Linked DNA regions of Homo sapiens: region 1 is linked to region 2. The links come from fine-mapping of genetic effects on gene expression. A gene starts in region 2. The other region holds a variant in brackets. All regions are shown on one strand. Distances are from middle to middle.

The links. PIP is the estimated chance that this variant, and not a neighbour inherited with it, causes the effect. A credible set is the group of variants that fine-mapping cannot tell apart.
Region 1: its variant is the best candidate, but not a certain one, in a credible set for the expression of HSD17B3 in whole blood (TOPMed, PIP 0.72).

Annotation. Positions count from the first base shown.
Region 1 is chr9:96,276,639-96,281,873 of GRCh38, reverse strand. The region is part of intron 2 of HSD17B3 (hydroxysteroid 17-beta dehydrogenase 3); the gene reads left to right. All of the region lies in intron 17 of SLC35D2-HSD17B3 (SLC35D2-HSD17B3 readthrough), which reads left to right. Among named protein-coding and RNA genes, the nearest start is that of HSD17B3, 23 kb to the left of the region's middle. The variant G/A (reference allele first, on the strand shown) is at 3,013.
Region 2 is chr9:96,298,934-96,304,168 of GRCh38, reverse strand. HSD17B3 (hydroxysteroid 17-beta dehydrogenase 3) reads left to right here and starts at 1,993. Exons shown (of 11, transcript NM_000197.2): 1 at 1,993-2,218. The coding sequence starts at 2,065. It overlaps SLC35D2-HSD17B3 (SLC35D2-HSD17B3 readthrough), which reads left to right. Exons shown (of 26, transcript NR_182427.1): 16 at 1,858-2,218.

The DNA.
Region 1 (5,235 bases), 22 kb after region 2:
AGCATTGCCTGAGGCAGGGTGGGGGAGGCGAGACGCTCACAGAGCCCAGAGAAAAAACCACCCATTGCAGCAACGCTGAAAAGTTCAGGTGGCTGCTTGTCAGTAGTGAAGGGATCTTTTCCTGCAGTCTCATCAGCTCTTAAGTTCCCCCTTTTAGGGAGGAAAAAGTTCCCCGTGTACCACAATGCTGTACATGCCTAATCCTGTCACCCACAGCCATTAGCAAAGAGCGAAAGGCAGATTATTCCAAAGAGAAAAGCAGTTAACATCCCGTAGGGCCAAACCCATTCTTAGCCAAGAGGGACTTTACGAGAGGGACTTTTCTGAGAGGGGACTTTAACCCCCTAAATATTAGAAGGGACTCTAACCCTCCTAAGTTAGGACTCTAACCCAAGGCTAGTCAAGTGCCCTTGCCTTTTATTAAGAAGGGCCTCTAACCTGCTCTGTCTTAGGAGAGGCTCTAACTCCCCTAAGTTGGGCCTCTAACCCAGCCCCATCCTTTACCCGGGTAAATGCGCCCCACTTACCCAAAGCCATCCAATCAGTGCTGTAGTCTATTTTTTTTGGGTCGGGGGCTTCTTTAGTATTGGGGCTTCTTTAGTATTGTGCCTTCAGGGTTAGTGAGAAAGATGTTACCAGACCCCACCACTTACCCAAAGTTAGGCTTTGGGAAGGGGGTTTTCACACTATAATCCCTTTGTGGTCACCAGAAAGATGTTACAGGAAAGGGGTCCTGATCCAGACCCCAAGAGAAGGTTCTTGGGTCTTGAGCAGGAAAGAATTCAGGGTGAGTCCATAAAGTGAAAGCAAGATTATTAGGAAAGTAAAGGAATAAAAAATGGCTACTCCATGGACAGAGCAGCCCTCGGGTTGCCCATTTTTATGGTTATTTCTTGATGATATGCTAAACAAGGGGCGGATTATTCATGCCTCCCCTTTTAGACCATATAGGATAACTTCCTGACATTGCCCTGGCATTTGTAAACTGTCACGGCGCTGGTGGGAGTGTAGCAATGAGGATGACCAGAGGTCACTCTCCTCGCCATATTGGTTTTGGTGGGTTTTAGCTGGCTTTTTTACTGCAAGCTGTTTTATCAGCAAGGTCTTTATGACCTGTATTTTGTGTTGACCTCTTACCTCACCCTGTGACATAGAATGCCTCAACTATCTGGGAATGCAGCCCAGTAGGTCTCAGCCTCATTTCACCCAGCTCCTATTTAAGATGGAGTTGCTGTGGCTCAAATACCTCTGACATGGTAACAGCAGCTCAGTGTTGCCAGCCCCACCCTATTGCACTGTCCCTTGTGGTTTCTTCATATTAAACTCTCTCCAAATTACTCAGTTTGAGTGTGCTATTTCTGCCAGAACCCTGGATAAATTGAGTTTTTAGTTATTTTTAAAAATGACAAATCAGAGTTCATCAACATCTATGCCTCAGCTAACTTGACCTTCATTAGAAGGCTTGCTAGCCTAACAGATGTTATAAGTAATTTTCCTGAGGAAATTATTTATACTGTGGAATAGTCGTTCAAAATAAGTGGATTGGTGAAAAAATGTTGTACAGGCACTTCTACCCTTGAATGAACAAAAGTATGTGAACCAAAAATACAATTCTAAGTCTCCCAACCAATCGAATGGACCCCTTCTCTTGGCCAAGGGCATTCCTAAGTTAACCTGAAAAACCAGTTCAGGCCATGATGGAGATGGGTGGTTGAACATGCCTCATTACGGCCTCCTCCCTTTGGAATTCAGGCACAGCTGAGCACCGCTGATATCAACACAGAGACCTTAAGAGTGACAAAGCAGGCCGGGCACAGTGGCTCACGCCTGTAGTCCCAGCACTTTGGGAGGCCCAGGCGGGCAGATCACCAGGTTAGGAGATCGAGACCATCCTGGCTAACACAGTGAAACCCCGCCTCTACTGAAAATGCAAAAAATTAGCCAGGGGTGGTGGCGGGCGCTTATAGTCCCAGCTACTTGGGAGGCTGAGGCAGGAGAATGGCGTGAACCTGGGAGGCGGAGCTTGCCGTGAGCCGAGATCGCGCCACTGCACTCCAGCCTGGGTGACAGAGCGAGACTCCATCTAAAAAAAAAAAAGAGTGACAAAGCAGACTCTTTGTAGCAATAAGATACCAACATCACAGACAGCAGGCCCTAAAAGAAATCAAAGTATTTTACCCCCAAATGTATTTCTTTGACACATTTTGAAATGGCCCTGCAAAGCTCTCTGTTGTGGGGAAAATCTATGGTCTGTAGAGAATCCCCTTCCCTTTCCAGGTCATTTTCCTGATTCAGGAGAGAATTAACTGGGAGTCTGATAAGAAACATTTACAATCTATTCTCTCTAAAGCCTGCTACCTGGAGGCTTCATCTGCATAATAAACACCTTGGTCTCCACAATCTCTTATCTTACCCAGACACTCCCTTCTCTTGATTCCAGGTGTTTAGATAAACTTTTTCAACCAATTACCAATCAGGAAATCTTTGAATCCACCTATGACCTGTAAGTCCCCCCACACCCACCCCTTTGAGTTGTTTTGCCTTTCTGGACAGAAGCAACGTACATCTTACATGTATTGATGGATATCTTATGTCTCTCTAAAACATGTAAGACCAAGTTGTAGCCCAACCACCTTGGGTATATGTTCGCAGGACCTCCTGAGGCTGTGCCACTGGAATGTCCTTAACCTTGGAAAAATAAACTTCAGCATGGATTGAGACCTGTCTCAGACACTTTTTGATTTACAGGTGTAATATCTGTGGGTATAGCAGAGTAGCATTCATGGCCTTGAACTGTGATTTGGTCCCACATCCTGCCACGTAGTGGAGGATTCTGCCATGTGATTTAGCTAGAAGGTTGACTGTATCCACCCCTTAGAATATTTTATCTACCGGGGATGAGCCCTCATGCAAGACATTTAGTAGACTGCCTAAGGGTCAGAGAGCTGGGGCTCCACTGAGCTTTCAAGAACAGGTTCCTGACTCTTTGATCCAGCTTGATGTTTTAGGTGT[G/A]GTAGAGTTCAGTCTGAAGCTTGCTTGCCTTGTAAGGCACCATCTGCTGGCTGGGTTTTGTGGGAGGGTACCTACAGTCCTCATTTATTTCTAATTACTGGAGGTTATAAGAAAAACCCAATACTTAACAGCAGCCAAATAGGCTTACATCAAATAAAGACATCAAATTCATGGCCTACCATCAAATTCATGGTTCCCATCATTTCTGCCTAGTTGTAGACAGAGTTCCCTTAGGGAGTGTGTGTAATTGCTGTGGCCTTAGACAATCACTCAGCCCAGCTGGACACAAGCAGGGTGGCCCCACTCAAGCCCCACGCAGCACCCACCCTCTCCACACACATCCCCACACCCATTTCAAGAGCACTGCCATCTAATTTTTGTGTATTTATTTTGTTCTCCTTTAACTTAAAAAATATTGAATATTTCCTTGCACCTTTACTGATGAATAATTGACAAATAAAAATTGTATATATTTAAGTGTATGACTTCTTAATATATTGAAATATGTATACATTGTGAAATAATCACCATAATCAAGTTAACGAACGTATCTATTATTTCATATCATTACCATGATCTTTTCTTGTTCTTTTTTGGGAGGGGTGAGAAAACGAGATTTACAGTTCTTAGCAAATTTCAAGCATATAATACAGCCTTGTTAATTATGTTCTATGTTAACTATGTCCTTGTTAACTATGTCTATTAGTTCTCTAGATCTCATTCATCCTGCATAACTGAAACTTTGTGTCCCTTGACCAACATCTCACCATTTACCCCTCCCCCAGCCTCTAGCAGCAACATTCTACTCTGTAGTTCCATGAGCTTGACTGTTTTAGATTCCACATATAAGTGAGATCATGCAGTATTTGTCTTTGTGTCTGACTTATTTCACTTAGCATAATCTCCTCATTTATCCATGTCCAACATTTATCCATGTTGTCATAAATGTCAGGATTTCCTTCTCTTTTTAAAGGCTAAATGATATTCCATTGTGTGTGTGTGTGTGTGTGTGTGTGTGTGTGTGTGCCACATTTTCCTTATTCATCTGTTAATGGATATTGGGGTTACTTCCATATCTTGGCTATTGTGAATAGTACTGTAATGAACAAGGGAGTGCAAATACCTTGAAGACATACTGATTTCATTTCCTTTGGATATATAGCCAGAAGCTGGATCATAAAGTAGTTATTATTTGAAGGAACTTCCATACAGTTTTCCCTAATGGCTGTACCAATTTACATTCCCACCAACAGTATACAAGAGTTCCCTTTTCTCTGCATCCTCGCCAATACTTATCTTTTGTCTTTTTTATAGTAGCTATTCTAACAGGTGTGAAGTGATAGCTCATTGTGGTTTTCATCTGCATTTCCTTGATAATTAGCGATATTGAACATCTTTTCATATGCCTATTGACCATTTGTATGTTTTCTTTTGAAAAATGTCTATTTACATCCTTCTTCCTTTTTTAAAATCACGTTATTTGTTTTGTTTTGCTATTAAGTTTTATTAGCTCTTTATATAGTTTGAATATCAATCCTTTATCAGACATGTAGTTGGCAAATACTTTATTCCATTTTGTAGGTTACCTTTTCACTCTGTTGATTGTTTCCTTTGCTGCACAGATGCTTTTTAGTTTGATGCATTTTCTTTCTTTTTTTTTTGAGCTGGAGTCTTGCTCTGTCGCCCAGGCTGGAGTGCAGTGGTGTGATCTCGGCTCACTGCAAGCTCTGCCTCCCAGGTTCACACCATTCTTCTGCCTCAGCCTCCTGCGTAGCTGGGACTACAGGCGCCTGCCACCACGCCCAGCTAATTTTTTGTCTTTTTAGTAGAGACAGGGTTTCACTGTGTTAGCCAGGATGGTCTCGATCTCCTGACCTTGTGACTCACCCACCTCAGCCTCCCAAAGTGTTGGGATTACAGGTGTGAGCCACCGCACCTGGCCAGTTTGATGCAATTTCAATTGTCTATTTTTATTTTGTTGCTTGTGCTTTCAGTGTCATATCTAAAAAATAATTGCCCTGACCAACATCAGGAAGATTCTCCCCTATGTCTTCCTCTAATAATCTTATGGCTTTAGAGGTTGCATTTAAGTCTTTAATCCCTTTGGGGTGGATTTGTGTATACGGTGTGAGATAAGTTCCACTTTCATTTTTCTGCATGCGGATATCTAGTTTTCCCAACACCATTTGTTGAAGAGACTATCTTTTCCTAATTGTGTGCTCT
Region 2 (5,235 bases):
CTGAAGAGATAATCAATGACCATGAAGGACAGAGTGAGCAGGTCGAATTTCTGACTAATCAGAGTCCTGAAACCATCTCTAAATACAGAGAAGGGAAAGACCAAAAACCACATAGAAAAACGGGCAGGAGAGAGAAAATTCACAAAGAAAACAGTGAAAATAGCTCTTAGGCTTAAGAAAATCTCTCCAACCTGGCTGATAAGATAATTTAAACTTAAAACAACATTGGATGCTACTTCTTACCTACTGGGTGGCAAAAGTCCCAAAGCTTGACAACATGCTTTACTGCTAAGGCAGTGGGAAAACGAACATGCTCACGTGTTGTTGGCGTGAATGCAAAATGAAGGCAAATCTGACAATATCTAGCATAAAGACGTATGAATCTATGTTCTGGCCAGCAATTCTGCTTCTAGGGTGAGCGCAAGGCTGTTGATTGCAGCACAGAGTGAGCTGAGAGTGAGCACAGGCAGAAATGAGAGAAGGCCAAGGACTGATCCTGTGGCCTCTGCAGGGATGACTTCAGTATCCTGGCTGCCCTTGCTTCAGTTGTCACACCCACCCTCCATCCCACCCCCAGAAGGACATCTTCCCTCAGCATCCAGTGGCCTTTTAAAAGCATAATTCAGAGTATAGAACTCTGTTTCCTAAATCTGTGCAATGGCTTCTGGTTGCTCTGAAAGTCCACACTCACCCGTAGGGCATGGCTCCTCCCTCCTGCTCTGGCCTTTTCCTCCCTTACTCTCTGTGGCCAGTCCCTCTGCTGTGTTGTCCTAGTGTTTTTTTTTTTTTTGAGATGGAGTCTTGCTCTGTCGCCCAGACTGGAGTGCAGTGGCACAATCTCAGCTCACTGCAACTTCCACCTCCCAGGTTCAAGCGATTCTCCTGCCTCAGCCTCCGAAGTAGTTAAGATTACAGGCATGCTCCACCACACCCAGCTAATTATTGTATTTTTAGTAGGTCTCAATCTCCTGACCTTGTGATCCGCCTGCCTCGGCCTCCCAAAGTGCTGGGATTACAGGCGTGAGCCACCATGCCTGTCCTGTCCTAGTTCTTATTCCTCAAATACGTGGATTTTTCTCACTTCAGGCATTGTACTAGCCGTTCCATTAGCCTGGAGGGGGAAACTCATCTTTGCGGAGCTGGCTCCTTTTCATTCAAATTTCAACTAAAAATGCCACCTCTTCATGGAATTCCTTCCTGAACACCCTCTCTGAAGCATTCCCTGAGTAGCTACTCAAACACATCATTCAATAGTGCTTTTTCATAGCACTGATGTTATCTTTTTTTTTTTTTTGAGACAGAATCTCACTCTGTCACCCAGGCTGGAGTGCAATGGCGTGATCTTGGCTCACTGCAACCTCCGCCTCCCAAGTTCAAGTGATTCTCCTGCCTCAGCCTCCCAAGTAGCTGGGATTACAGGTGCCCACCACCAGGCCTGGCTAATTTTTGTATTTTAAGTAGAGATGAGGTTTCACCATGTTGGCCAGGCTGGTCTTGAACTCTTGACTTCATGTGACCCGCCTGCCTTGGCTTCCCAAAATGTTGGGATTATGGGCGTGAGCCACTGCCCCATCTGATGTTATCTTATTTATCTGCTCATCATCTGTCCCTGCTACCAGAATCTAAGCTCCAAACCAGAGAGACCCTCTGTGGTCACTATTAACTTCCTAATGCCTTCAAGAGGGGACTCCACCTGGTAGGCAGTCAATACATAGTGCTAAATGTATGAATAATTGCCTTGGATTCTGCATCCTTTTTAACTTTCCCAAATTCAGGGAGAGAACTGTGGGCTGCCATTTTATATTTGTCCAGGCTTTGTTTTTTTCCCTTCATGTCCACCTTTTACTTTTTCACCAGCTCCTCCACAGTAACAAAAGCCTTATTCAAAGGCCTGTGAGTCAGAGGATTATGTAAAGAAGTTACTTTAATCTAGATGCCCCTGACTTGATGGAACACGTCCAGTGACTCCTGGAAGAAGATCTGGAGGTCTCCAGAGCAGCGTGGTCCCAGGAGGCATACACAGAGAGCCACGGCCAGGGCTGAAACAGTCTGTTGAGTGCAGCCATGGGGGACGTCCTGGAACAGTTCTTCATCCTCACAGGGCTGCTGGTGTGCCTGGCCTGCCTGGCGAAGTGCGTGAGATTCTCCAGATGTGTTTTACTGAACTACTGGAAAGTTTTGCCAAAGTCTTTCTTGCGGTCAATGGGACAGTGGGCAGGTAAGGGAGTGTTCCATCTCATGTTTTTTTGCTGCTGTTGTTCCTGCTTGTTACTATTATTATTATTTTTGAGACAGACACTTGCTCTGTCACCCAGGCTGGAGTGCAATGGCGCGATCTTGGCTCACTGCAACCTCCGCTTCCCGGGTTTAAGCAATTCTCCTGCCTCAGCCTCCCAAGTAGCTGGGATTATAGGCGCCTGTCACCACACCTGGCTAATGGTGTTTTTTTTTTTTTTTTGAGACAGAGTCTCACTCTGTTGCCCGGGCTGGAGTGCAGTAGTGCGATCTCTGCTCACTGCAACCTCTGCCTCCTGGGTTCAAGCAATTCTCCTGCCTCGGCCTCCCAAGTAGCTGGGATTACAGGCACACACTACTACGGCTGGCTAATTTTTTGTATTTTAGTAGAGACAGGGTTCCCCCATGTTGGCCAGGCTGGTCTCGAACTCCTGACCTCATGATTTGCCCACTTTAGCCTCTCAAAGTGCTGAGATTACAGGCGTGAGCCACCGCACCCAGCCAACGTTTTGTATTTTTAGTAGAGACAGGGTTTCACCCTGTTGGCTAGGCTGGTCTCAAACTCTTGACCTTGTGATTCACCCGACTCGGCCTCCCCAACGGCTGGGATGACAGGCGTGAGCCACCGCACCCAGCCCCTGCTTATTATTATTTATGTCTCAAAAGGGATATTGCATTTTTTTCTCTTTGAGAGCAAAGAAGTAATTCCTTTGGGTAATTTTAATTGGGGGGATTAGAAAAGTGTGAGTGAAATTAGAATGGTCTGCAACACAAGCTGTAGGGCATTAGGGGAACACTAGGGCAGAAGGCTACCCAGCCCTTGCTAAGCACTTATCCTCTCAACCCCATTAGATGAGTTTTCTTCTTTTGGGAGTTTCCTGCTAATACAAATAATAAATAATGCAGAAATTTCTGCATCCTCATCTCTAAATTTACAAAAAGCCCAGGGTGCTTTCACTTTACTAAAAGGTGTTTCCAAATTTTGAAATCTAAATAATTTTAACTCATTGTATTAAAAAAAGGATCCAAGTGTTTTTAAGAAATGAAGGTGTTACAAAATCAAGGCAACGCATAACTCTATGGAGCCATGTTTTCAGGATGGTATGGAATGGAATCTGGGTCTGGCTGGTGTCAATTAATGCTGCCTCCCCATGGGATTTATCTACTGGAACGCCCATGCAGAACTTCAGCCCTATGACTGAAGTTAAGGTGAAGAGCATGAGGCCATGGTTTCAGCATCTCCTTGAATATCTGAAATGCTAAAGTCTTTGCAGGGCCTTATATTTCAAATTTGGACACACACACACACACACACACACACACACAAAGAATCCAATGACAAAAATGATTAAGTGACTTTAGAGATATTATCTAGGCAAAATAGGAAAGATTCTAATATGCTTATAGGGCTGCCAGATAAAATACAGGATACCCAGTTAAATTTAAATTTCAGAAAAAAAGGAATACTTTTTTAGTATAACTCACATATGGCATGAGACATGCATTAAACAATTCATAATTTACCTTAATTTCAAATTTAAGTGGGCATTCTGTATCCTTATTTGCTAAACCTGGCAACCTTAAAAACTTAGCAATGGAAATTAAAAAAATTACCGTGTGAGAAATTGTTTGGGATGACAAATGGATTTTTGACTTCTGCGTCTTATATTTGCTGTGTGCGTGTGTGTGTGTGTGTGTGTGTGTGTGTGTGTGTGTGTGTGTGTCCTCTTGGGGTATTATGCTGTCAGGAGTGAACTTGCTTGAACTTGCTCAGCAGCTTGACCTGAGTGTTCTGGATTTAAATACCCCACTCCACACAGATTCAGATGCCCACGTGTGGGTGGACGTAGCACTCTGCACAGCTGCTGTCGTTTGTGTAGGGAAAGCCCTTCTAAAAACCTACATTCTAAAAGAAGTTCAAATGGGGACAGAGACTAAGAGCATTTGGTGACTCAAAGGAAAAACATGATCTTAACCTGTTTTTATGAGTCAAGATGGATAGAGTTACCTCTAGCAGGAGTAAAATATGTTTGGGCAGAGGCAGATATCAGGGAGATAATATATTTCAAGTAGGGGACAAAAAAGAAACGCAAGAACTAGAGGCTAAATTTTTAATTCCTCAGATAGAGTACCCTGAGCTCTGTGCTGGATTTCCTAATTCTTTTCTTAGTGTATATTCATAGACTCAGGGCCCCAAAGTCAGACAGCCTGGGTTCAAATCCTTGTGTCATCATTTTTAGCAGTGTGACCTTAATCAAGTTACGAACTTTTTCCCCTTGGCTTCCTCATTTATAAACTAAGGATAATGATGGTCCCTGCATTTTAGGTTTGTTTTGAACATTAAATGAGATGATGCATCTAAAACACTAGAAGCAGTACATGGCAAGAAGTGAGTGTGTGACCGTTATCCGTCGTTATTATTGATGGTATCATCTTGCCTGTAGTGTAGGCCCTGTATTGGGTGAATTGAAGATTCCCCACAGGGAGGGGAAGGTAAGGCCCAAGATGCCCTGAGCATAGTTCCTCCACCCAGAGCTGCAGACGGTGTGCATGGAGCCTCTTAGAAGTTCCTAAACGAACAGACACATCATTAGTAATTATTAAAGCCAGTGTGGTCCGTGAGGCTTGTACAGCTTGGCCTGCACTCACTCTCAGGTGAGCTAAATGTACCTTTTGTTCACACTTTTTGAAAGCATGCCCTTTAATTGTTGTTGCAAGGGTAAATTGTAAGTTTTACGATATACCGAATTGTAGTGAATTTTGAAATTGTGACGTTCTCACGAATGAAGCGTATACTAGAGCTCAATCATTAAATATGTCTGTAATGTTGATATGAAAGGACTAGCAGACCTATTTGACTGTTGTATATTAACAGATAGTTCTATTGAGTACAAATTCTTCAGGTTTCTTCATTTCACTGCATTTTCTTTTTGCATTTTGGTATTTTCCTCTTTGCTAAATTCCCTACCTTCCATAGGCCTTTAATTGCTGCTGTGGGGT